7 linked regions of the Homo sapiens genome follow. The protein of the gene in region 5 purifies or fractionates together with the protein of the main gene of each other region. This does not show direct contact. Each region holds a gene or a part of one and is shown on either strand. Other genes may lie near its edges.

Region 1 (3,500 bases), on a different chromosome or scaffold from region 5:
ATTTTTGTATTTTTTTGTGGAGATGGGGTTTTCACCATGTTTCCTGGGCTGGTCTCGAAATCCTGAGCTCAACCCATCTGCCTGCCTTGCCCCCGCAAAGTACTGGGATTACAGATGTATGCTACCACGCCAGTCAGTTGTCTTATTTTAAGAAGCTGCCACAGTCACCCCAACCTTCAGCAATCACCACCCAGATTAGTCAACGGCCATCAACATCAAGGCAAGACCCTTCACCAGCAAAAAGATTATGATTTACTGAAGGCTCAGATGATCAGAAGCACTTGTTAGTAATAAAGTATTTTTTGGTCGGCCACGGTGGCTCACACCTGTAATCCCAGCACTTTGGGAGGCCAAGGCAGGTGGATCACCTGGGGTCAAGAGTTTGAGACCAGCCTGGCCAACATGGCAAAACCCTGTCTCTACGAAAAATACAGAAAGTAGCCGAGCGTGGTGGTGGGCATCTGTAATCCCGCTACTCGGGAGGCTGAGGCAGGAGAATCGCTTGAACCTGAGAGGCGGAGGTTGCAGTGAGCCGAGATCACACCACTGCACTCCAGCCTGGCTGACAGAGCAAGACTCTGTCTCTAAATAAATAAAATAAAATAAAATAAAACAAAATACTTAGACAAGCCATGACTCAACTTCATGTGTATATAGTAGAAAACAGAAGTACCTACTCTAACAAGTAGGTCATTGGGAGAATTAACAGGGTCATTGGGAGAATTAAACAAGACAATGAATAGAAGGTACTCTGCGTAATGTTTTTAAAAAAGTAAGAAATACTGAAAAACGGCCAGGCGCGGTGGCTCACGCCTGTAATCCCAGCACTTTGGGAGGCCAAGGCAGGCGGATCATGAGGTCACGTGATTGAGACCATCGTGGCCAACATGGTGAAACCCCGTCTCTACTAAAAATATAAAAATTAGCCAGGTGTTGTGGCAGGCGCATGTAATCCCAGCTATTCGGAAGGCCGAGGCAGGAGAATTGCTTGAACCCGGGAGGGAGAGGTTGCAGTGAGCCGAGGATTGTGCCATCGCACTCCAGTCTGGGAGACAGAGTGAGACTACATCTCATAAAAATAAATTAATTAATTAAATAAAAAGAAATACTGAAAAATGAGCCACAAATGTGAACAGTGATAATCACGGATGGTGGAGTTGTAGGTAATGTTTTTCTTTGTACTTTTCTGTATTTTCTCAATTCTTCACAATAGGAATGCTTTACATTTAAAAGAAGAAAATAATATTTTTTAATATAGAAAAAGTGCATTTTTTCCCCTAACACATATTTCTGATTGAAACCCTCTAAGCCTTACTGGATAGTTTAAAAAATAACTCTGTGGGCTCCTTCCAGTCCTTCATTTCTAAGCAAATCTCATATTCTTACTCATTTCCTAACCTGAGATCCATGTTGATCACTGCCATTATTCACCATGGACACTGTGCCTTTCTTCTTGTGCTTAATTCTTGGGACTTTTTCTGCCTCAAAAAAGCTTGCTTGATCACCATACAGTTGGCTGAAAAAACATATAAGGTTATAAATGTAAGTACTCTCAAAATGAAATACAGAAGTACTAGTAACATACAGGGTTATCAATTATTTCTTTACAGAAATGCCAACAGAATTCAAAATATTACTTTTTTTTTTTTAGGGAACTTGGGGGAAAAAATCTAAATTTAAACCATATTTTAAAATGCAGATTGAAGCATGAGCAATTATATTTTTCCTCATTTAAGAATAAAAGAATTTGTTCTGCCCTTCCAGAGGTTAAAAGTAAATAAATAAATAAATAAATAAATAAATAAATAAATAAAACAACTTACCCAAAGATAGACTCTCCTCCACGGCCAGTCCCTGTAGGATCGCCAGTTTGTATGATAAAATCCCTCTGTAATATGTAGGATTCTTTGTTAATTCACAGAGTTTGTTAGATAGTTCCAATAACAAAGGAAATGACTAATATCTACCAACTCACCTGTACATTGTGAATAAGGCAATAATTGTAATATTTTATTTTGCACAGTTTCAAGAAATTCAAGCAGGCTGAAAGAAAGTAAATACCAAATTTATCACAGTAATCCACAAACACATTTTTAAATAAGTAAAGCCACAGTAAAATGTAATTTCTAAATTACTATTAAAAGAAAAAAAAAGTCAAATGTCCAAAGCTATAAAAAAGGGCAATAGGCCGGGCGCTGGCTCACACCTGTAATCGCAGCGCTTTGGGAGGCGGAGGTGAGTGGATCACTTGAAGTCAGGAGTTTGAGACCAGCCTGGCCAATATGGTGAAACCCTGTCTCAACTAAAAATACCAAAAAAAATTAGCCAGGCATGGTGGCGGGCACCTGTAATCCCAGCTACTAGGGAGGCTGAGGCAGGAGAATCACTTGAACCCAGGAGGTGGAGGTTGCAGTGAACCAAGATCGCACCACTGCACTCCAGTCTGGGCAATAGAGCAAGACTCTATCTCAAAATAAAATAAAATAAAATAAAATAAAAGGGCAATAAGTCTAGAAAAAAAACATTTTAAATTACCTTTTTTTTTCCTTTAATAGGAGTTTTGGGGCATCTGGGCTAATACAGAAAACTGACACTTATAAGCAATCATTTACTGATGGATTGATTTTATTACGAGAAAAAAGAACACTTAAAGAGCATATTGTAGTAGAAAAGGATCTAGCAGAATATATAAAAATGGATACGGATTATATCAATTAGGAAAAAGTCAAACACCCGGGGTCATTTTTTAAATAATAGTTAAACAGCCCTTTATAAAAATCCATACACTTATGAACAACCTTTCTCATACAAGTTAATCTGCTTATCCAATAAACATTTACTGAGTACCTTCTAGATGCCTGACACTGCCATCACAAATGCCATTAAACTGTGGTCCCTGCTCCCAAAAAGTTCACAGTCTAGTCGTGGAAAGACACATTAACAAGCTCTTAAGGCACTAAGTTAGAAACCAAACAGACAGTAAGATATATGAGGCAATCCCTGCCCTCAAAAAGCTTACATTAAATTAGGGTCCTTACATCTGAACACAAGTAGTTACATACTGGGCATATCTAATTAATAACATGTGTGCCACTTATTTAAAATGGTAAAAAAAGTAGTTTTAAAAATTCCACAAGAGTTCAAAAGATTGTTTCTGGCTAGGGAAATTAGAAAACCTCAGGGAAGGTTAAGGCAAGCATTAAAAGAACTGGACTAGCAGAGAGTGAAGGGTGAGCATTTTAGGTCTGGAAGACTATGAAAAGGCCTGGAAGTGGAAATTTAAATGTTTTAGGGGAGGTCCAAAACACCAAAGTTCTGTAATAGTCTGGTATTACACAGTAATAGAGCATGAAAAGACTGGAGAGATAAGATGGGGCTGAGCTGTTGAAGAGTGCTGAATATCAGTCTTGCAGTTGTTTTTCTTGAATATATTTCTGGGCTTCATGTTTAACAGATAGGGGTGGTCCTTTTACTAGAAACAAAAATAATGAATTTAGGCA
Region 2 (3,500 bases), on a different chromosome or scaffold from region 5:
AAATTAAATGTACCCATATAAACTGGCTGTAAACGAAACCAGGTAAGATAAACCACTCAACTTCCACCTATATTCCACACGTAACATGCACAAATGCATGTATGCACATATTCACGGATTTTCTGCAAAACAGAAATAAAACTGGACTTTTCTGAAACTTGAGAAAATACTTGTTAGGAGAATTATAAAACTGATGAGGATGACATCAGTTTTGAAGCATTTTTAATTTGAAGAAAAAGAAAATGTTACCTTTTTTCTTATTCCAGGAGAATAAGCATAAACTGACTGATATACTTCCAAGAAATATAGCCTGAATTCTTATATCGCTGTGTCATTACTAATAATTTTTCACTACAGTAAGTACTGTAAATTTACAGAAAAACAGAAGCATCTAAATGACACACAGAGTTGCTTCTCATTATTCTTGCATTTCCTATTCGTGTATTTGCCTACCTAGTAAAATGTATCTGTAACCCAAAAATCAAGACTTGTAGCACTTTTGTGGCCACTGCACACATACACAAGAGTGGTGAAAAATCTGTGCCACCCAATAGCACACATTCTCAGCTGAGGTGGAACAAGGTGATGCTCTGCCTCATTTATTTCACCTCTCAGACAAGTATCCTTTTCACAGTCTGTTTAGTGCCATGTTTTTCAAGTTTTTATAGTCCCAAAGAGTACTGCCAAAGTGCTGTATAGTGTTCCTAGGCTCAAGAAGGTTGTAATGTGAAATGGCAAAGACATGGAATCAACCTAAATGCCCATCGTTAGTAGACTGGATAAAGAAAACATGGTACGTATATACCATGGAATACTATGCAGCTATAGACAAGAACAAGATCATGTCCCTTCCAGGAATATGGATGGAGCTGGAGGCCATTAACCTTAGCAAACTGACAAAAGAACAGAAAACCAAATCCTGCATGTTCTTACTTATAAGCAGGAACTAAAGGATGAAAACACATGGACACACTGAGGGGAACAACACACATTAGGGCCTATCAGATGGTGGAGGGTAGAAGAGGGAAAGAATCAGGAAAAATAACTAATAGGTATTAGGGTTAATACCTGGGTGATGAAATAATCTGTGCAACAAACCTCCATGACACAAGTTTACCTATATAATAAACGTGCACATGTACCCCTGAACTTAAAAAAAGGAAAGCTACGAAGGCTGTGATGTGTCTTAAAGAGAAAATATGTGTGTTACATAAGTTATGTTCAGGCACTCTTAGCACTGTTGGCCATGAGTGCAATTAAATTAATCGACAGTGTGTGTGTGTATATATACACACACACACACACACACAATTTTTTTTTTTTTTTTGAGACGGAGTCTCTGTCGCCCAGGCTGGAGTGCAGTGGCGCAATCTTGGCTCACTGCAAGCTCCGCCTCCCGGGTTCACGCCATTCTCCTGCCTCAGCCTCCTGAGTAGCTGGGACTATAGGTGCCTGCCACCATGCCCAGCTAATTTTTTGTATTTTTAGTAGAAACGGGGTTTCACCGTGTTAGCCAGGATGGTCTCGATCTCCTAACCTTATGATCCACCCACCTCAGCCTCCCAAAGTGCTGGGATTACAAGCATGAGCCACCATGCCTGGCCAATCGACAGTATACATTAAATGAGATATCTTCAAACAGGAACACAAACAAAATAAGGTTATATATTGATCAACTGACCAACATGTTATTACTGGAAATGTGAACTTAATCCTATATTTCTCTTGGGCAATGCTTCAATACAGTACTCCCCTATCTACAGTTTTAGTTACCCATAGTCAACCTTAGTCTAAAAATATTACATACAATACACTATTCTAAGGGATAAAGACCACATTCATATAACTGTAACTAGGGTATGCTAATATAATTGTTCTATTTTGTTATTATTTTTATTAGTCTCCTGTTATACCTAATTTAAAAACTACACTTTATCATAGGCACGTATGTACAGGAGAAAACACAGTAAGGTTCGTTACTATCCCCAGTTTCAGGCATCCACTGGTCTTAGAAGGTATCTCCCATGGATAAGGTGGGTACTACCGTATTCACTGTTTTGTGGGAACTTTAAAGAACTACCACAAATAATGAGAATCAATCGTACCTGTGTCAAAGAAGAGACTTTCCAGAAGTACTGACTAAACCTCTAAAAATAAAACCAAGTTTTTATCTTCTGTTTGTTCACATGTATTCCATCCATAGTATTCCATGATGTTTATGTACCAGACATGCTGGAGGGACATGTCTTATAATGGGATATGTACATTGCTGTGGGGAGACCTGAGGAAGCCCCTCAAAGAGGTAGTCATTCTCCAAATCAACTAAAATTGATAGGCAACAGGAGGCCTGTGTGAATGCTGATCGGCAAAGGAATTATCACATGAACACAAATACTTATTACATTAAGTCACTGCAGGTAGACAAAAACAAACAACAGTTTCAAATATGAGCCTTTATCAAAAGGCACAAGAGTAACTGAATTTTATGTGCCAATGTGCCATCAGGTATTTTTTTCACACCAGTGATGTCAAGTAACTAGCAAAAGGGTAAAGTAAAAGGAGATATTTAAGCAATTAGTTAAATCTCCTGAACCAAATGTGGGATAGCCAACTAGTACAGAATAGCCACCATAGAATATTTTTTAAAGTATAGTACATGAATCTATGTATCATGCAAACAAAGAGAAAACTCACTATTCCTGCACTTTCATCTAACTACTTGCTTTCATGGACCTAAAGAATAGATCCAGTCTCAGTAGTGTATTAATTATAATTTCCAACTTGTTTGGCATTTTATTTAATTTCCAGAAGATGTCATAACATAAATAAAGCATACCTTTCTTCTTCCTTCCTCCTTCCGATCAAAAGCACATTGCTGTTTGCACTGTTCACAGGTCTGAGGTGGTCCATACTTTTTTTCTGAATTTGTGCAACGCTGACACTTGGTACCAATAAATGCTGCAATTATGTTACAGTACTGACAAGGCTTGGGCTGAAAAACATACACATTTTGAGACTTTTAAAAACATTAAATATTTGCGGCATAGCATATACCCAGTGTTGTAGACATATTTCTGGAATTAAGAAAACTCAGGTAAAAAATTTGTTTTCTGTCAAGTTTGTTGCCCTGTCACATGCAATAACTTTTATACCATATTTCTATGCATTCAACTAGTATTTATTTCTAGTCATGTAACTATTACTCTAAGATCGTGAGAAATAGATTTGTGATTTGCATAGTCTGTTAGATAATACAAAAACTACACATAAAAAAGGTTTTAAAGAACGAAAATAAAGGTACATATGTAGAGAAGTCTCATGAATCAAGAATTTGAGGAAACGTCCTTCTACTAATATCCTAGTTACCTTAATGACCATATCATTTATTTAGAAAATGTTAACTTTTCATCACATATAGGTACAAATCATATAAGGAATATATACTGTGAGTTTTCAACTTTGAAAAAATGAGAACAAGCATATTCAACATAAACTATAAA
Region 3 (3,284 bases), on a different chromosome or scaffold from region 5:
TGCTTAAGTACGGGAGGTCAAGGCTGTAGTGAGCCATGATTGCACCACTGCACTCCAGCCGAACTGACAGAGTGAGACCCTATCTCAAAACAAAAAAATAATCTATTGTCATCCCTTGATATCCACGGTGTATTGGTTCCAGGATCCCTCTCACATAGCAAACAGTATATATATATCTGCAGATGCTGAAGTCCCTTATATAAAATGGCACATTTGCATGAATGTATATTGTTATATATAATAAATTTTTTTATTGTCATATTATTTGTTGTTTTCAAGTATTTTCTATCTGCAGTTGATTGAATCCTCTGATACTGAACTCACGGATTTGGGGAGCTGACTGTACATACTATGTGATGTCATAAATTTTTCTTCTCTCAGTAACAACCCATTACTACATTTCCTTTCAGTTTTTCCTTGTGCTGCCATTTTTATAGTTGAACTTGTCTCTGTGAACTTAAATTATATTTACATCTTATTTTATGTTGTTTTCTGTTATGTAAGCATGTTCCATTGAGTGATATAACAGAGTTTATACTGTCATTTCTCTCATGTTGGACCTTGGTAGAATTCTCTGTTTTTCCCTGTAATAATGAAATTGCAGTGGTTATGTGTTTTTTGTTTTTGAGACAGAGTCTCACTCTGTTGCTCAGGCTGGAGTGCTTTGGCACGATCTCAGCTCACTGCAGCCTCTGCCTCCCAGGCTCTAGCGATCCTCCCATCTCAGCTTCCTGAGTAGCTAGGACTACAGGTGTGTGCCACATGTCTGGCTAATTCTTGTATTTTTTTGTAGAGACAGGATTCACCATGTTTCTCAGGCTGGTCTCCAACTTCTGAGCTCAAGTGATCTATCCGCCTTGGCCTCCCAGAGTGCTAGGATTATAGGTGTGAGCTACCCCGCCTGGCCTGGTTATGTTTTTTTCCCCAAAAGTTTGGATTGTAGATTACTTAAGATAGATCCCCATTAGGATATACTAGGTTAAGATGTGTTACCATTTTGAAGACTCTTGATGAGAATTGCCTGGTAGCTTTTTTAGAAAGATTGTCACAGCGTTTGTTGCCATTGTTACTGTATTGTAGTTACCTTTCTGCTTGTCTGCTCCCTTTCTTCTATTACTTGATAAGCTTCTAAAGTCCTTTAACAAACATCTCATGGATATTCAGGGTTGTTAGCATTAATGGCTCTATATTGGAACAGAAGTATAACAGAATTTTGGATCTAAATGGAACCCTAGAGGGTGTCTAGTCCAACATCTCGTAATGGAGCGTTCCCTGCCCTCTGGTCAGCTAATACAATGGGGCTTTGACAGAAAGATGGCTATACGAAGGAGGTTTATTCGTTTAAAATATTGCATATGGGGGCCAGGCGCGGTGGCTCATGCCTGTAATCCCAGCACTTTGGGAGGGCAAGGTGGGCAGATTACAAGGTCAAGAGATCGAGACCATTCTGGCTAACGTGGTGAAACCCTGTCTCTACTAAAAATACAAAAATTAGCTGGGTATGTTGGCCCGCGCCTGTAATCCCAGCTACTTGAGAGGTTGAGGCAAGAGAATCGCTTGAACTCAGGAGGTAGAGGTCACAGTGAGCCGAGATCGTGCCACTGCACTCCAGCCTGGCAACAGAGCGAGATTCCGTCTCAAAAAAAGAAAAAAGAAAAAAAGCCAATATTGCATATGACTAATCTAGTCTAGAACCTCATTTTACAATGAAAAAAAAAAACCACGAAGCCTGTAGCATTGTGACTTAGCTGAACATTTCACAAGGCAGCTTGAGTGCTTTCTGAGGAAACACTGGTGACGAGCATGGTGATGAGGAGACTTCGAGTGCAGCAGCTGATACACCTGGGATTGGATGGGGCTTATCTGTGCAAGCTTGAAAGTCGTTCTCATCTGTTAAAGTGACACTTTCACTAGTTTCTTTGCAGATGGGTTTCTGGTAGCAATTAATGTATTGTGTTTTCTTTTGCAGAATACAGATTCTGTTCATCTTGCTCTGAAATTAAATAATTCTGAACTCATGGGGAGAAAACTCAGAGTCATGCGTTCTGTTAATAAAGAAAAATTTAAACAACAAAATTCAAATCCACGATTGAAGAATGTCAGTAAACCTAAGCAGGGACTTAATTTTACTTCCAAAACTGCAGAAGGACATCCTAAAAGCTTATTTATTGGAGAAAAAGCTGTTCTCCTTAAAACGAAGAAGAAAGGACAGAAGAAAAGTGGACGCCCTAAGAAACAGAGAAAACAGAAATAACAACCAGGAACTGCTTTTTCTTTTCCTGCTGAGTACTGCTAATAAAAGTGCTATTATCTGCTGATAGCATCGTCTGCTATTCATGTGTTGAGTTTTATACTTCTTTATGGATGGTGTATGTGAAATGTGGAGACTTCCACATTCTCAGTTTATTCACATTGTGATACTACCTTTGAAGGTTTTTTTGTTTTTGTTTTGTTTTTTGAGATGGAGTTTGGCTGTTGTCTCCCAGGCTGGAGTGCAGTGGCGTGATCTTGGCTCACTGCAACCTCTGCCTTCTGGGTTCAAGCGCTTCTCCTGCCTCAGCCTCCCAAGTAGCTGGGATTACAGGCGCCTGCCACCACGCCTGGCTAATTTTTTGTATTTTTAGTAGAGACGGGGTTTCACCATGTTGGCCAGGCTGGTCTCGAACTCCTGACCTCAGGTGATCCACCTGCCTTGGCCTCTCAAAGTGCTGGGATTACAGGCGTGAGTCACTGCACCCAAGCCTCCTTTCTCTTTTGCCTATTAAACCTCTGCTCTTAACCTTACTCCGTGTGTGCTCAAGTTCTTGATTTCCTTGGCATGAAGCAATGAACCTTGGGTATTACCCCAAACGATGTCGCTTCAGTATCTCACTTTGTTGCCCAGGCTGCTCTCAAACTGCTGGACTCAAGTGATCCTCCCACCTTGGCCTCCCAAAGTGCTAGGATTACAGGAGTGAATCACTCATCAATTCCAAGGGGCTAGAACTCCCAGGAACTGGGGACAAAGGCCAGCCAAATTCTTTATTATGCAACCTCGTGTTACTGGAAAAGGATCCAGATCCAGACCCCAACAAAGGGTTCTTGGATCTTGCCTAAGAAAGAATTTGGGGCCAGTCCACAGAGTAAAGTGAAAACAAGTTTATTAAGAAAATAAAGAAGATCACTCACGGTGGCTCATGCCTGTAATCCCAGCACTTCGGGAGGCCGAGGTGGGTGGATCACCAGATGTCAGGAGTTTGAGACTAGCCTGGCCAACATGGTGAAACCCCATCTCTACTAAAAAT
Region 4 (3,500 bases), on a different chromosome or scaffold from region 5:
TGAGAAAGGGCACTGTGTCAACTCTCCTGGGGAGCCAGGAGGAAGCCTCAACCAGTCAGAGATATATTGGGGATGATTTCCATGTCCTATCCCCTGCCTCCAGGGAGGGAGGAACTTGGGACCTCACAAGTCTCTTCCTGGCTCAGATTCTACACAGGGAAGGTTCCAAGAACATTAGAGGGAGAAGCCAGGGAGGAACATAGTTACACCCAAGGTGCCCGGCACTACAGCTCTTTTAACTTTTATGTTCTCCCCTGGAAAGCCCTTCCCCATTTCCCAGCATCATCATCAAAGGACACGACCATCTGCACACCCAGAGAGAACAAGGGGGACCCCACTGTGATGAAACCCATGTTGTTATGACAAGATTGTGTCAAAACAGAGCACACTGCCAGAAATCACATTTCCAGACTACAGAGACTGGATTCCAAACAAAGTTCACGGCCGCCAATACAGCATTAAGGAAACACATCTCAAATAAGGAGGAAAAAAAACAACTACCCCCCAGACAAACCCAAAATAGTACTGAAAGTGTATTCCTGTACACTTATTGGAATGTATTGGAAAGTGTATTCCTATACACTTATTACACTTTTTTTCACCATTGCCAAAAATGTTGTGGTTAAAGCCATTAACCGCAGTGTATTTGGCAACAGTGAAAAGCAAAAAACAACTCAATGGCCATCAACAGGATTTGATTTTGGGTTCTATATATGGTGGAATACAATGCATCTGTTAATAAGAATGAATTCAAGTAGAAAAGGCACATTTGGTTTCAAAAACACACACCTAGTTACATTGCATTTCCATTTCTTTGTAACCTAATTAACCTTATTCCAGCTCCTCGGATTTGGATACTAGAGTTGAATATCACCTTAGAAAGTCACCTGGGCAATGTAACTATGCATCAACCTGGGGGCTCCTAGGAAAGGAACCATTTCTCCTTTTGCCTGTTCTCTCCTGGTACACACAAGGCTGGGCGCTTACATGGGCTGGGGGACAGCCATGCAGAGAACAGACCATAACCCAGGAAGGCTTTGTTATTATGTATTCCTGTGGTTTTGATGATCCTTAAAAAGAACTTCAGGCAGCAACCCAAGTTTGAGCTTCTATCTTAACCAGCACTCTCTCTGCACATGGCTCTGCAGCCCACCCTACTCCCTGCCCTTCACCACTTACTGTTCAAGCTATTCGAGGCCTCTGAAAAGACAGTCCACGCTACACCTTTCTTCCTCCAAGTAATACCATTGCCAAACCTCCTGAGAACACAAAACCCGACCTTAAGCACCCACCCCCGCCCTGACAAGCAGGCTTTCTGGTCTGCCCTCCTTGTCACACTCCCGCCAGGAAAGTCATCCCACAGCCTGTCTTGCTCTACGGCCTCCAACACCTGCTCCCACCCAGATCCTGTCAGCACCTAGAATTTTACCACTTTTAATATCTGAAATCCCAAAACAAAACTCCCTAAACACAATCTCTTGTCCTACACAGTACATGTATCTATTTCCACTAGATCTGATCTTTAAGCCTGTTAAAGTTTCTCATCCCTTGACCTGCTTTGTCCAGGCTGGTGAGCCCCTGTGACAATCCTCAGTGAGGAATGTACTTCCCAATGCTCCAGCACCCACCCTCCAACTGTCCTCCTGTAGGACCCACCCACCTTGCCAACCTGCATCCAACCTTGGATGAAATTGGTCCTCCCACGTTCTCTACTCCTCCCTCTAGGCTGCCAACTGCCACTGGATATAGCCACATGGCCATGCAGCTGGCACTGTGTTAACATTACACCTTCAGCAAGGACCTTACTGCTGGAACACAGCCTTTTTCTTATCTTCAGTTATGATGCTCCCCTGTGAAGGCACATCTTTACCATCCTTGTCACACTCTCTTATCCTACCCCGCCCATCCCCTTACCCTCAATCCCATCCTAACTCGGTAACAACTGAAAACTCATCCCAACCCCCTTCCACTCACCTCCACACAGCTCTACCTGGAGCCACCCTTACCGTATGCCTGTGGCCTTGAATCCATCCCCTCTCAAGTAAGAATAAAAAGAATAGTAGTAACCATTTACCCAATGCTACTTACACACCAGTGCCTCCTACTGTGCAACTACGATCTCATTTTACCTTCATGACAGTCTCGCACAGCAGTTATAACAGGACTAAAGATATACGGGCAACCAAGGCTTACGGCCAAATGCTTCCATTGGTAAGTGGCGCAGCCGGCGTCGGCACCCACGTCTTTCTGACTCCAGCACCTGGGCTTTTAATCAGCTCATTACTTTGCTTCATCTACATTAACAACCTACAAAAACACTCAAATCCTTACCAATCTTTTTGTAAAAGGGAGGGAGTCTCCCTGACTCTCGCTTCATCAAGTTACTCCCTCATCCTTCCTTCTCCTTCTCTTTCCTGTCAAGGTTCTGTAAAGAGTGGTCCCCACAAGCCGCTGTTTCCCTCCCCTTCACTCCACAACCCAGAATTAGTCCCTTGGGATAGGGATCCAGCACTCTTCCCCAGGGCATCAGTGACAGCCTGCTGCTGAGTCCCTCAGCTTTTCCCCCACCCCAATGCTAACTCCTCAGGGCCTTTTAAAGTGCTGACCTGAGCTTCCAGGAAGCTATGTTTTGTTTATTCTCTTCCCCACTCTTACTTCCCTCCTTACTTAACTCTTGCTTTCAAGTTTTGGTGGCCTCACAGGGTTCCACCCTCCTTTCTTTGCGTTCTGCATAGTATCTGATTCCAGCCACCTTCAGCTCTTCACTGGCCCCTGCCTGTCTTCATGCCCCATTCTACCATCAAATGCCATAGACCAACCTGAAATCTGGCCACACTTCATTACTTGCCACTCCCTAGAACCACTGTGCACTGCCACCTCTGCTCAGGCCCACTTTTCTGCCTGAAGCCCTCCTCCTTTCTTGCTCTACTTTGCAATCCTCTGTTCTTCAAGGCTCCTTTCTATAGGCAAAAGTAAAAATTAAATGCCTGTACTTTAGAGTCACACAGACCAGGTTCAAATCCTAGCTCTGTCATTATTAGCAGTGTGACATTATTAAGAAATTCCTTAAGCTTTTGAAGCTTCAGTTTCCCCATCTGCAAAAAAGGATGTAAGTGAACTCAAGGGTCAATGTGAGGCTTAAAAGCATGTAAAGTGACTACTGAAGTAGATGCAGAGTAAATACTTAATAGTAGATATCATTCATTATGATTACTCCAGCCTCCCTAGGTCCTCCAGACAAAATTGACCACTGTCTACTCCAGGCCCCCACCCCACTGCACATATCATTTTGCATGTTATATCAGAACTGTGTGTTTTCATATTTGGTTCCTTCACCGAATGATGACGTCTTCTGAGGGAGGAACTGCAGTATATTCATGGCCCCCAAACCAAAGCCCTTGAGAGAGGATCACATACATCAGAGCCATTTGCCTAAATGTTAACCGGAAAATTAAAAAAAAAAAAAAAAAAAGAATGACTCAATCAATCTAGTCATGGTG
Region 5 (3,500 bases):
AATGAGAGCTTCAAGTTTCTTTCTGTCAAGTTCACTCCACCAGAAAAATGACTCTATCACTTTACACTTGACAATGTTAGAAATTATTTAAAAGCCAACCCAACTGTTTTTAAGTTAACATTTTCATTGGGAATGATTAGTGTCTCACACACTTTTCTATATGTTTGAATTCCAAAATGCTTACAGTAGACACTTCTTTATGAAATGAATAAATATACATAGACTAAAATAGAACTCAGCTTTAAAACAAGTTTACCTGTGTCTATGTTACACATTCCAGAAAGCGCCTTTAGTATTTCTTCCTCTTTGCCTTTCAACTCCAAACAACAGTAATAGGATAAATCCTGCACAAAGCGGGAGACACAATTAAGTACTTAGGAATTTACACAGGCAAAACTGCTAAGAAGCCAAAAGCCGTATCACAAAACCTTTAGAGGCCTAAGACACAAAACAAATTGCTAAAGCTATGTTCTCATAAGTCAAAATCTAAACCTTCTCCTGCCCGATGGTTTAGTGGAAAAAATATCTAAACCTGTCCATTCCTGTCACCTTAACAAATATTTTTAAACCAACCCGAACCAAAATAAAAATGAATCTCCATTTAAAATGTAAGTTACGGTATCCTACTTTTTAGGTAATCTATGTTTTATCCCATATTCATAGACAGGTTCTACGGAGGGTACATAACTGTTGCCTCTAAGTAGAGAACCATTCACCCCCAAAGTCTACCTAAGGTAAGAAACCAGAGTAAAATAAGCAAAACAGTAATGAATTCTGCAAAATTATGCTCAGGTTGCTCAATTTGGTTAGCTAATTCAGGACCTCAAGATTACTTAACACTAAGCCTAGAGATACAATATTGCAATTAATCCATCCCATATTTCTCCCATACTCAGTCTTGACCATGATATGCAACTTTAAGCACAGTACAAAGAAAGTAAAAGTAATAACATACAATTTCAAGTAAGATGAAGAGAGATCAGACTAAGCTAATGAAATCAATGTTAAAAGTTTCAATAGTTATAGTATCCATAATAATAATTATAATAATAATTCTAACAGTTTGTTTTGTTTTTGAGACAGGGTCTCACTCTGTTGCCAGTGCTAGAGTACAGAGGCGCAATCACAGCTCACAGAAGTCTCAACTTCCTGGGCTCAAGCAATCCTCCTGCCTCAGCCTCCCAGGTAGCTGGGACTACAGGCACGAGCCACCACACCCAGCTTTTTTTTTTTTTTTTTTTTTGCAGAGACAGAGTCTCACTATGTTGCCCAGACTGGTCTTGAACCCCAGAGCTCAAGCAATCCTCCTGCCTCAGCCTCCCAGGTAGCTGGGACTACAGGCACGAGCCACCACACCCAGATTTTTTTTTTTTTTTTTTTTTTTTTGCAGAGACAGAGTCTCACTATGTTGCCCAGACTGGTCTTGAACCCCAGGGCTCAAGCAATCCTCCTGCCTCAGCCTCCCAAAATGCTGTGATTCTAAGCATGAGCTGCCATGCCTGGCCTATAATAGTTAATAGTCATTGAAGGGTTACTGAGTGCCAGCAATGAGTTAACTCCTTACATGAACAGTCATTTAGTCTTCCTGACAACCAGATGTACCTAGTATGGTTATCTTATCTGACAGACAAGGACACTGTGACACAGAGATTGTTACTTGAACAAAGACACAGTCATTAAGTGGAGAAGCCAGCATTCTAATCAGGCTCAGTGATCTGCCAAACCAACCCTTCTGCTATAGCATCTTTAAGCAATTTCAGTGCACTCAGTAACTAGAACTAAAAGGGAAATTATAGCTATGATTCTGACAACGCATGTCAATCAATATGATCACTCACACAAAGAAATCTTCCCATCCAGTGACCAGCTCTCAGCTGTCAGTGGCCAGAGGAACCTCACCCAAACAAGTGACAGCAGAGAATAATGGTTCAGAGTGTGGAACCCTGGAGTCAGGCAACTGGGCTCAAATCTGAACCTCAACACTCATTGGCCATACAATCATGGGTAAACTACCTAACCTCTCTGTACCTCAGTTTCCCCATCTGTAAAATGGAAATAATGGTAACTCCTTACTTCGTACTATTCTGAGGATTAAATGAGTAAACACATGCAAACCATTTAAAACAGGGTAGGGCATATATTAAGCACTCACTAATATTTGTTATTATTAGCTATTAGTTTTATTACTTAGGGCTGATCAAATTTTAGAGAAAATATCTGATAACTTCAGCAAAAATTATGCCCAAAATGAAAAGTAACTCATTGGCAGAGGACAGTGGAAAAAGCACAAGCCAGGGGAATCAGCCACCCAAGTGCTATGTAGGCCACCAACAAGCTGTGTGAGCCCAGGCAAGTCACTTCATCTCTCCAGAACCCAGCTTCCTCAATGTGAATGAGGAACTTGACTATTATCTATGATTTCTGCTGCTGAGTTCTCAAATCAAAGACTCCTAAAAGGTCCTCTTATTCACTTCACACTCATTAGAATGACTGTGATCAAATAAATAAATAAAGTAACAAGTACTGAAAAGGATGAGGAGAAATTGGAACCCTTGTGTATTGCTGGTGGGAATGTAAAATGATACAGTTGCTATGGAAAATGGTAAGGCAGTACCTCAAAAAATTAAACATAAAATTAACATAGAATTATCATATGATCCAGCAATTACACTTCTGGGGATATATTCAAGAGGACTGAAAGCAGGGACTGTAACGATATTTGCATATCCATGTTCACAGCAGCATTATTTACAATAGCCAAAAGGTGGAAGTAAGCCAAATGTCCACTGACAGATAAATGAATAATCAAGATACGGTATATACCTACAATGGAATACATCTTCAGCCTTAAAAGGGAAGGGAATTCTGACACATGCTACAACACGGATGAATTTTAAGACATTATGCTAAATGAAATAAGCCAGTCACAAAAAGACAAATATTGTATGATTTCACCCCTATGAAGCACCTATAGGATCAAATTATTGGATAGACAATAGAATGGTGGCTGCCAGGGGCTGAAGGAATGGGAGTTAGTGTTTAATGAGTCGAGAGTTTCAGTTTGGAAGGATAAAAAAGTTCTGGAGATGGATGGTGGTACTGATTACACAACGTAAACGTACTTAATGCCACAGAACTATACACTTAAAATGGTCAAATGGTTTTGTTATGTATATTTGACCACAATTTTTTAAAAAGATTCTTGTATTGCTTATTCTACCACATTACTCTCAAGGGGTATCAAAGGACACCAATAGTAATGGCTTTCAAAATTTGGCCAAGGCCATTCTGCCACTGAAAGATAGGCCCTTCTGCAAAGAACAAATGTCTAAGTATGTATTGGAAGAAATAGAAAGCAACTGAATTAGCTTCTGAGAGGAGGGAGCAATCAGATAAATACTATTAAGAGGCTCTAACATAATCTGTCCTCTCAAAGCGTTTAAAATTTAAAACATCCTTCCCAGCATCCCACTGACCCATAAACACCTAGACCAGCATTC
Region 6 (3,500 bases), on a different chromosome or scaffold from region 5:
CCCCTTGTCTATATATACTTCATAGGTTTTGTTCAACTGCTATTATACACAGCACTTAGTTGTTTGCTTAGTTTTAAGGTTTTTGTTTGTCTGTTTGTTTTTTTGGGAGACAGAGTTTCACTCTGCCTCCCAGGCTGGAGTGCAGTGGTACAATCTTAGCTCACTGCAACCTCTGCCTCCATGGTTCAAGTGATTATCCTGTCTCAGCCTCCCGAGTAGCTGGGATTACAGGCGTGTGCCACCAGGCTCAGCTAATTTTTTGTATTTTTAGTAGAGATGGGGTTTCGTTATGTTAGGCAGGCTGGTCTTGTACTCCCGACCTCAATCAATCCAACCACCTTGGCCTCCCGAAGTGCTGGGATTACAGGTGTGAGCCACGGCACCCAGGCTGCTTAGTATTAAACTTGAATTACACTACATCAATCTCTACTTAGACCCTTAACTCCAGATAGAAACTGTCTTTACTCATTTTGGACTTCCTTCTCTAACAGTGAGAATGACTAAGGTATGTATTTAGTAAGTACTAATTTACCTGAACTTCATCTCCTGCTGTCTTTCGGAATCCCATAAGGGGATTCCTTCAATCAAGGAATCAACGTAATTCCAGTGTGATGAAATTTAGTAAGAATCTTTACAAGCAAGAAAATTTCAGCATCTGACGTTTTTAAACTAATCTATAAGCTATCTTTACAAGAGGTGTTCCCAAGCAACAAAAAGGATGGGCTCAATTTTAATCTCATTTTTCCTAGTGTATACAATGTATAACAAGGAGCTAATAAGCCATAAGGATGAGAAGGCAAAGAAAGGATAGTGGAAAGACATTTACGTTCAGGTGGATTTTAAGAATCACACAATCTCCTAGCAGGAAAACTTTCAATGGTTTACTGAAAGCTTGCTGAGAAGGTCAGGTGGTATATGATGTGCTAGGCATTCATACATGAAAGATACAGTCCCTGTTCTCAAGGAGTAGACAGTGCAGTCTGAGGCAGCTGAAAACAACATGATGCGTTCTAACAGACGTACTATACAGAGTGCATTCACTGGTGGTCCATGAGTGGGAGCAAAGGCATAGAAGTGTTCTGAGAGATGACATGTTAAATTTTGAAACCTCAAGAGGCATTAGATCAAAGAGGCATTAAAGAAGGGCATTTCAGATGGAAGGATCTGTTAAGTGTTACCACAGAGAACAAGAAATAGTTCAGTGCAGCTAGAGTTCAGTAGCACATTTGGGAAATTTGCAGGACACATGTTCAGAAAGACAGGTAGGGCCAAGATGAACAGCTTAGAAGGCTATGCTAACGACGTACCATACAAAACTGTATTCTGCCAGCTACAAAGAATCGTTAATTTTACACAGAAGGGAAATTTTCAGATCAGTGTTTTTGAAAGACAGAATGAGAGATACTCATGGTAGAGGCAAGGAAAGTAGAAGGCTGTTGCAGCAACGCAGGTATAAAGCGACAAAATTCTGAACTAAGAAAGCACCTGTGGGAAAGGAGAAACGGGGGATGGATCTGAGTTATTTATTTAGATATCTGAGGAAAGATCAATTAGGATTGTGTGACCAGTAATTGGTGTGGAAGCTAAGGAAGAAGAGTCTAGAATAACTTCAGAAGTTTCTGGCTTTAAAGACTGGGTGAACTGTGGAGCCACTAATGGAGATGGAAACCTAAAAGAGCCAGGTTTGCAAAATTAGGCAAAAGGTGAGTTCAGTATCTATGAGAGAGCTGAGTAGAGATGCCAAGCAGGGGCAGTAACTGCAGAGAGGGGTCCGGAGTGAGCTATAGATTTGATGTAAGCCATTTGCATTTGAGGTTACTGATGTAAATAAGCTAGCAGAGAGACCATGCAGAGTGAGAAAAGAAGTAAGACAATTCTTTCTTTTCTCCCCAAGACGGAGTCTTGCTCTGTCGCCCAGAGCTGGAGGGCAATGGCATGATCTTGGCTCACTGCAACCTCCGCCTCCTGAGTTCAAGCAATTCTCCTGCCTCAGCCTCCCGAGTAGCTGGGATTACAAGCACGCACCACCGTGCCCAGCTAATTTTTGTATTTTTAGTAGAGACAGGTTTCACCATGTTGGCCAGGCTGGTCTCAAACTCCTGACCTCGTGATCCACTGCGCCCAGCTGGTAAGACAATTCTTTTTTTATTTTTATTTTTTGAGACGGAGTCTCACTCTGTCGCCCAGGCTGGAGTGCAGTGGCACAATCTCGGCTCACTGCAAGCTCTGCCTCCCGGGTTCACACCATTCTCCTGCCTCAGCCTCCCCAGTAGCTGGGACTACAGGCACCTGCCACCAGGCCCGGCTAATTTTTTGTATTTTTAGTAGAGACGGGGTTTCACCATGTTAGCCAGGATGGTCTCGATCTCCTGGCCTCGTGATCCACCTGCCTCGGCCTCCCAAAGTGCTAGGATTACAGGCGTGAGCCACCACATCCGGCCCAGTAAGACAATTCTTAACATATATCACTATTTAGGAATGGGCAGAAAAAGAGAAGCTTACATGGAAACTTCAGATGGAACAGGGATTGGGGAAGGGAAAGAAAGAAGAGGGGGAAAGAAGGAAGGGGAGACAAGGAGGAACACGGGTGAGGAGAAAGAAGCTCTATAGGCAGAAAACTAAAGAGAAGTTAGGTAAGTTAAGAACTAAAATGTGCCAGGCACGGTGGCTCACGCCTGTAATCCCAGCACTTTGGGAGGCCAAGGCAGGCGGATCACAAGGTCAGGAGATCAAGACCATCCTGGCTAACACGGTGAAACCCCATCTCTACTAAAAATACAAAAAATTAGCCGGACGTGGTGGCGGGCACCTGTAGTTCCGGCTACTCAGGAGGCTGAGGCAGGAGAAAGGCATGAACCTGGGAGGTAGAGCTTGCGGTGAGCCAAGATCCGGCTACTACACTCCAGCCTGGGCGAGAGTGCGAGACTCTGTCTCAAAAAAACAAAACAAAAAGAACTAAAATTCTTCTGTTGTATAGGCAACCAGGAGTCATCAGTGAAAGCAGTTTCAATGGAGCAGTAGGGACAGGGTTGAGGAGTACCTGGCAAGTAAGTAGTAGAAGATGAAGACTAGGTCAAGAGGAGTCAAGAGTACTTTGTAGGCTGTTTATCAATGATAGGAAGGAGAAAGTGAAGCATTACCTACAGAAATTTTATTTTTTAAAGAAACATAGGCATGTTTATATGCTAAAGGGGAAAAACCAGTAAAGTCTGAAAAACTGAAGATGCAAAATGACAGAAAAAAGTCATAGGATTTCCAGAGAAGACCAGACACAATCAAAACTTTTAACAACAGGAGTAACTCACTCTTCCCCCAAAGCTAGAGGGAAGGAGTGAAAAGAACAAACATGACTATGAATCAGCCCTATTAAATAATCAAAAGGTTCATATTACAAAAGCAGCAAATCAACTCCTGCCACAAACAGGCAGGCAGTGAGACCTTGGGCAGGTGAGGGTTGCTTACTGGCTCTCAAGACTTAGCAAGTTGGAAAAGCGATCCTT
Region 7 (3,500 bases), on a different chromosome or scaffold from region 5:
TACTACAGCAAACGAGGCTTTGAGAAATAATTTGCCCAAGGTCACAATGGCATATGTGGCAGTCTAACCAGCATCAAATAGAGTGGACATGTTACTGATTCCTTCTAATCAATATTCCATCAAAGAAATTTGTAAGGAAATAAATGCACATTCATTAAGTTCACAGGTAAGAATATGAGTGGCCAGGATTATATCAGAATTCAGTTTAACCTTGACAGTTAGGTAAATGGGGGTCAACTAAATGAATTCAATTGAATGGAAAGAAGTACAATGGGAGATAGGGGAGAATAAATGATGAAAAGTGCAATAGGGTGAAAAAATTAAAAAAAAAGAGAAAAACAAAATACTCTTAAAACTTCCATCTTCTAATCTCGAAAATAAGAACTGAAACATCAGTTCTCAATCTTTTCTGTTTCCCAAAACCCTTTCAAAAACCACTCCTAAAGTTCTCTTTCTCCCTTAACCTGTCTCTCTCATCCACTTGTGCACACACACACAGAGATGCTGCACACACACAGGAGTGCATGCACATGGGAACACAATACCTCACTTACAGTCTCAGGCAGTTTATGCACCCATGAGGCCCAAGAACCCCACTCTCCACCCCAGGTCAGGAGTCTGAACCAAATAATCTCCCTCAAGGTAAATGAATCTAGGGTGAAAAACAAGTAGCTTCTGGACAAAAAGAGAAAGAAACAAAGAATTATGGCAGAGTGTAAATCACATTTTAATTTTATGTCTTCAAGCTACTGGGATATGTACATATATCAGTAGAATGTAGGAAACTCTGAAAAATATGAGTGAATTCAGCACTGTTGTTATAATGGCCCAGCCCTGAAGCTCATCAGCAGGTCTGGAAACGTAAATACAAGGGCTTGGAAAAGGTGACTTCAGAGTTGGTAATCAGAACTATATGACAAGCTTTTTAAAACCACAATTATCCTGGAAAAAGGCAACTGAAGGGTAACATAAGTTTTTAAGTATTTGAAAATTCTTTCATGAAGGTTGATGGTGAGGCCCTAAGAGCAAAGCAAGAGGAAACTGGTCTCTTCAGAAAGATTTGATTTAAATGCATGAACTACCCTACCTGACCTAGGCAATAAGGTCCGATAGATGAACAGTGACAAAACCACTTTGGGAGCCTTTCCATGCCTCCTAACCTGGAAAGAACTAAAATGATCCCCATGATGCCGAACTTAGTTATCTATGCAAAATTTCAACTTGGCTATCTAAAGCAAAACCTTATTTAAGATACAGGTCAGATCTCAGGAAAGATTGTTCTTATCCTTCAATTTATTCCAGATTATTTGGGAGACAATCTATGTACTTTTTGACTTTATGGCTCTAATAAGGTAGAGTGAAAATATGCAAAATTCAGAGAGGTATCTGTGAAGTGAAAACATGTTTCCATTTTAAAGATAACTGAGAATATGAAATTAGCTCAATTGCAATCTTTGAAGAAAAAATATCCAGAAGCAGTATGAATGCACTCATAGATCACATGAAATCTATTCCAATGCCAAGAAGTAAGAGACATCACTTTAAAATAAGAAAATTCAGAAAGCCTCTGAAATTCTAATTAAAATTAATACTATCCCAACACCATGGAAATATATAGCCTATCTACTCTCCTAGACATGAAAAACATGCCTCTAAGAAACTTACAACACAGATCCCAAGCCAACCACAAAACCAGGAGAAACAATATCAGTGGTTAGAAAAGCAAATAAACATTACCGACATGATATTTCTACATGAAACATTACCCATTTCTATGTCAACTCTATCAAAGAATCTTCACTAAAGATTCTTCACCTCTAATATATTAAAGGTTCAATGAATTAATTCATCAAATATTTATTAAATACAATGAGTAGGTGCTTCACATCACAAATACCTATAATATTCCCTCTCTCATATGAAATACACACACATACACATACTTTATAGAAAAAGCTACCAAAATCTATTAGCTATAACTATAAACCGGCTGGGTGCGGTGGCTCACACCTGTAATCCCAACACTTTGGGAGGCCAAGTCGGGTGGATCACTTGAGGTCAGGAGTTCAAGAACAGCCTGGTCAACATGGTGAAACCCTGTCTCTACTAAAAATACAAAAATTAGCCGGGCATGGTGGCACACGCCTGTAATTCCAGCTACTTGGAAGGCTGAAGCACGAGAATTACTTGAACTGGGAAGACGGAGGTTGCAGTGAGCCAAGATCACGTCACTGCACTCCAGCCTGAACGACAGAGTGAAACTGTGTCTCAAAAACAAAATAAAAACAACAACAGCAACAAAAACTATAAATCATTTCTAGATGATAACTGAGATTATTTATTTCTTTCCTTCTTGGCTTACCTATAACTTTTTTTTTTTTTTTTTTGAGATGGAGTCTGGCTCTGTCACCCAGGCTGGCGTGCAGTGGCGCAATCTCCGCTCACAGCAAGCTCTGCCTCCCGGGTTCACGCCATTCTCCTGCCTCAGCCTCCCGAGTAGCTGGGACTACAGATGCCTGCCACCACGCCTGGCTAATTTTCTGTATTTTTAGTAGAGACGGGGTTTCACCGTGTTAGCCAGGATGGTCTCGATCTCCTGACCTCATGATCCACCCGCCTCAGCCTCCCAAAGAGGTGGGATTACAGGCGTGAGCCATCGCGCCCAGCTATAATTCCTAAACAACTCTAATAGCTAACTTGGAGGCCATTTCCCTATAGTTAATGACATCAGGCATTGACTCCATTTTAGATTTTAGTCTAGGGCACTGCCCACGCAGAGAAATGATACAAATCTCATAATATCAAGTTGCTGGTTTATGCCAAAACATGGCATCCCAAAGGATGTTCTGTCTAGAATTGGTGACAGAATCGCATACAAATCTTCTATTTGCTCAGACATTCCAAAGACATTAGAACTGTTTGCATGTTGAGAGGAAGAGACTAGGGCTAAGAGTGGATCTGCTGACTCCTAACGGTTCAGCCCTGAGATTCCAAGATTCTATAAAAGAGCAGTGAATTAGGGTTTGGCTATTATTTGCTGACTACGAAAGCCAGCATAAACATTTACTTCAGGCTTTGAAATCTGTAAGGGTACCCAGTGGTTAGGTACAGTAATTCTGAATCTGAAAAAAACAAGCCCACTGGAAATGTTTCTAAATAAAGGTGGGATGGAGGAGGTAGGCACATTTCTTTTGTTTTCTCCAAGTAAACAGCACAGATTTTAGAAATGCAAAATGTGACTCAGTGGTATTGATCCCTATAAACTGTTTATTTGCCTTATAAAACTAGTAGCAATTCACACTTTTCAATAAAAAGCCCACACATAGCTTTTAAACAGGCTACTTCAGTTCAAAAAAGAAAGAAAAAGGCCCATGTCTTCAGCTGGGATTACAGGCGTGCGCCACCATGCCCGGCTAATTTTTGTATTTTTAGTAGAGACAGAGTAGAAACAGAAACAAAACAAAACCTTCAAAAATATTTAGCATTCTGCTATATAAAAT

The links.
Region 1: the proteins of POP1 (region 5) and PPIL4 purify together in Homo sapiens (affinity purification with mass spectrometry, with the first as the bait; one large-scale study listed by BioGRID). This does not show direct contact.
Region 2: the proteins of POP1 (region 5) and FAM76B purify together in Homo sapiens (affinity purification with mass spectrometry, with the first as the bait; one large-scale study listed by BioGRID). This does not show direct contact.
Region 3: the proteins of POP1 (region 5) and RBM34 purify together in Homo sapiens (affinity purification with western blotting; one study listed by BioGRID). This does not show direct contact.
Region 4: the proteins of POP1 (region 5) and RCL1 purify together in Homo sapiens (affinity purification with mass spectrometry, with the first as the bait; one large-scale study listed by BioGRID). This does not show direct contact.
Region 6: the proteins of POP1 (region 5) and DDX42 purify together in Homo sapiens (affinity purification with mass spectrometry, with the first as the bait; one large-scale study listed by BioGRID). This does not show direct contact.
Region 7: the proteins of POP1 (region 5) and EPB41L2 purify together in Homo sapiens (affinity purification with mass spectrometry, with the first as the bait; one large-scale study listed by BioGRID). This does not show direct contact.

The regions. Positions count from the first base shown.
Region 1 is NC_000006.12:149,539,544-149,543,043, forward strand, and holds part of PPIL4 (peptidyl-prolyl cis-trans isomerase-like 4), read right to left. Parts: intron 2,044-3,500; coding exon 1,976-2,043; intron 1,889-1,975; coding exon 1,824-1,888; intron 1,517-1,823; coding exon 1,399-1,516; intron 1-1,398. UniProt on the Homo sapiens protein: PPIases accelerate the folding of proteins. It catalyzes the cis-trans isomerization of proline imidic peptide bonds in oligopeptides.
Region 2 is NC_000011.10:95,783,283-95,786,782, forward strand, and holds part of FAM76B (protein FAM76B), read right to left. Parts: intron 2,993-3,500; coding exon 2,837-2,992; intron 1-2,836. UniProt on the Homo sapiens protein: Negatively regulates the NF-kappa-B-mediated inflammatory pathway by preventing the translocation of HNRNPA2B1 from the nucleus to the cytoplasm.
Region 3 is NC_000001.11:235,130,683-235,133,966, reverse strand, and holds the end of RBM34 (RNA-binding protein 34), read left to right. Parts: intron 1-1,969; coding exon 1,970-2,254; 3' UTR 2,255-2,784; downstream 2,785-3,284.
Region 4 is NC_000009.12:4,834,444-4,837,943, reverse strand, and holds part of RCL1 (RNA 3'-terminal phosphate cyclase-like protein), read right to left. Parts: intron 1-3,500. UniProt on the Homo sapiens protein: As part of the small subunit (SSU) processome, it plays a role in 40S-ribosomal-subunit biogenesis in the early pre-rRNA processing steps at sites A0, A1 and A2 that are required for proper maturation of the 18S RNA.
Region 5 is NC_000008.11:98,130,793-98,134,292, reverse strand, and holds part of POP1 (ribonucleases P/MRP protein subunit POP1), read right to left. Parts: intron 345-3,500; coding exon 257-344; intron 1-256. UniProt on the Homo sapiens protein: Component of ribonuclease P, a ribonucleoprotein complex that generates mature tRNA molecules by cleaving their 5'-ends. Also a component of the MRP ribonuclease complex, which cleaves pre-rRNA sequences.
Region 6 is NC_000017.11:63,780,670-63,784,169, reverse strand, and holds part of DDX42 (ATP-dependent RNA helicase DDX42), read right to left. Parts: intron 1-3,500. UniProt on the Homo sapiens protein: ATP-dependent RNA helicase that binds to partially double-stranded RNAs (dsRNAs) in order to unwind RNA secondary structures. Unwinding is promoted in the presence of single-strand binding proteins.
Region 7 is NC_000006.12:131,056,746-131,060,245, forward strand, and holds part of EPB41L2 (band 4.1-like protein 2), read right to left. Parts: intron 1-3,500. UniProt on the Homo sapiens protein: Required for dynein-dynactin complex and NUMA1 recruitment at the mitotic cell cortex during anaphase.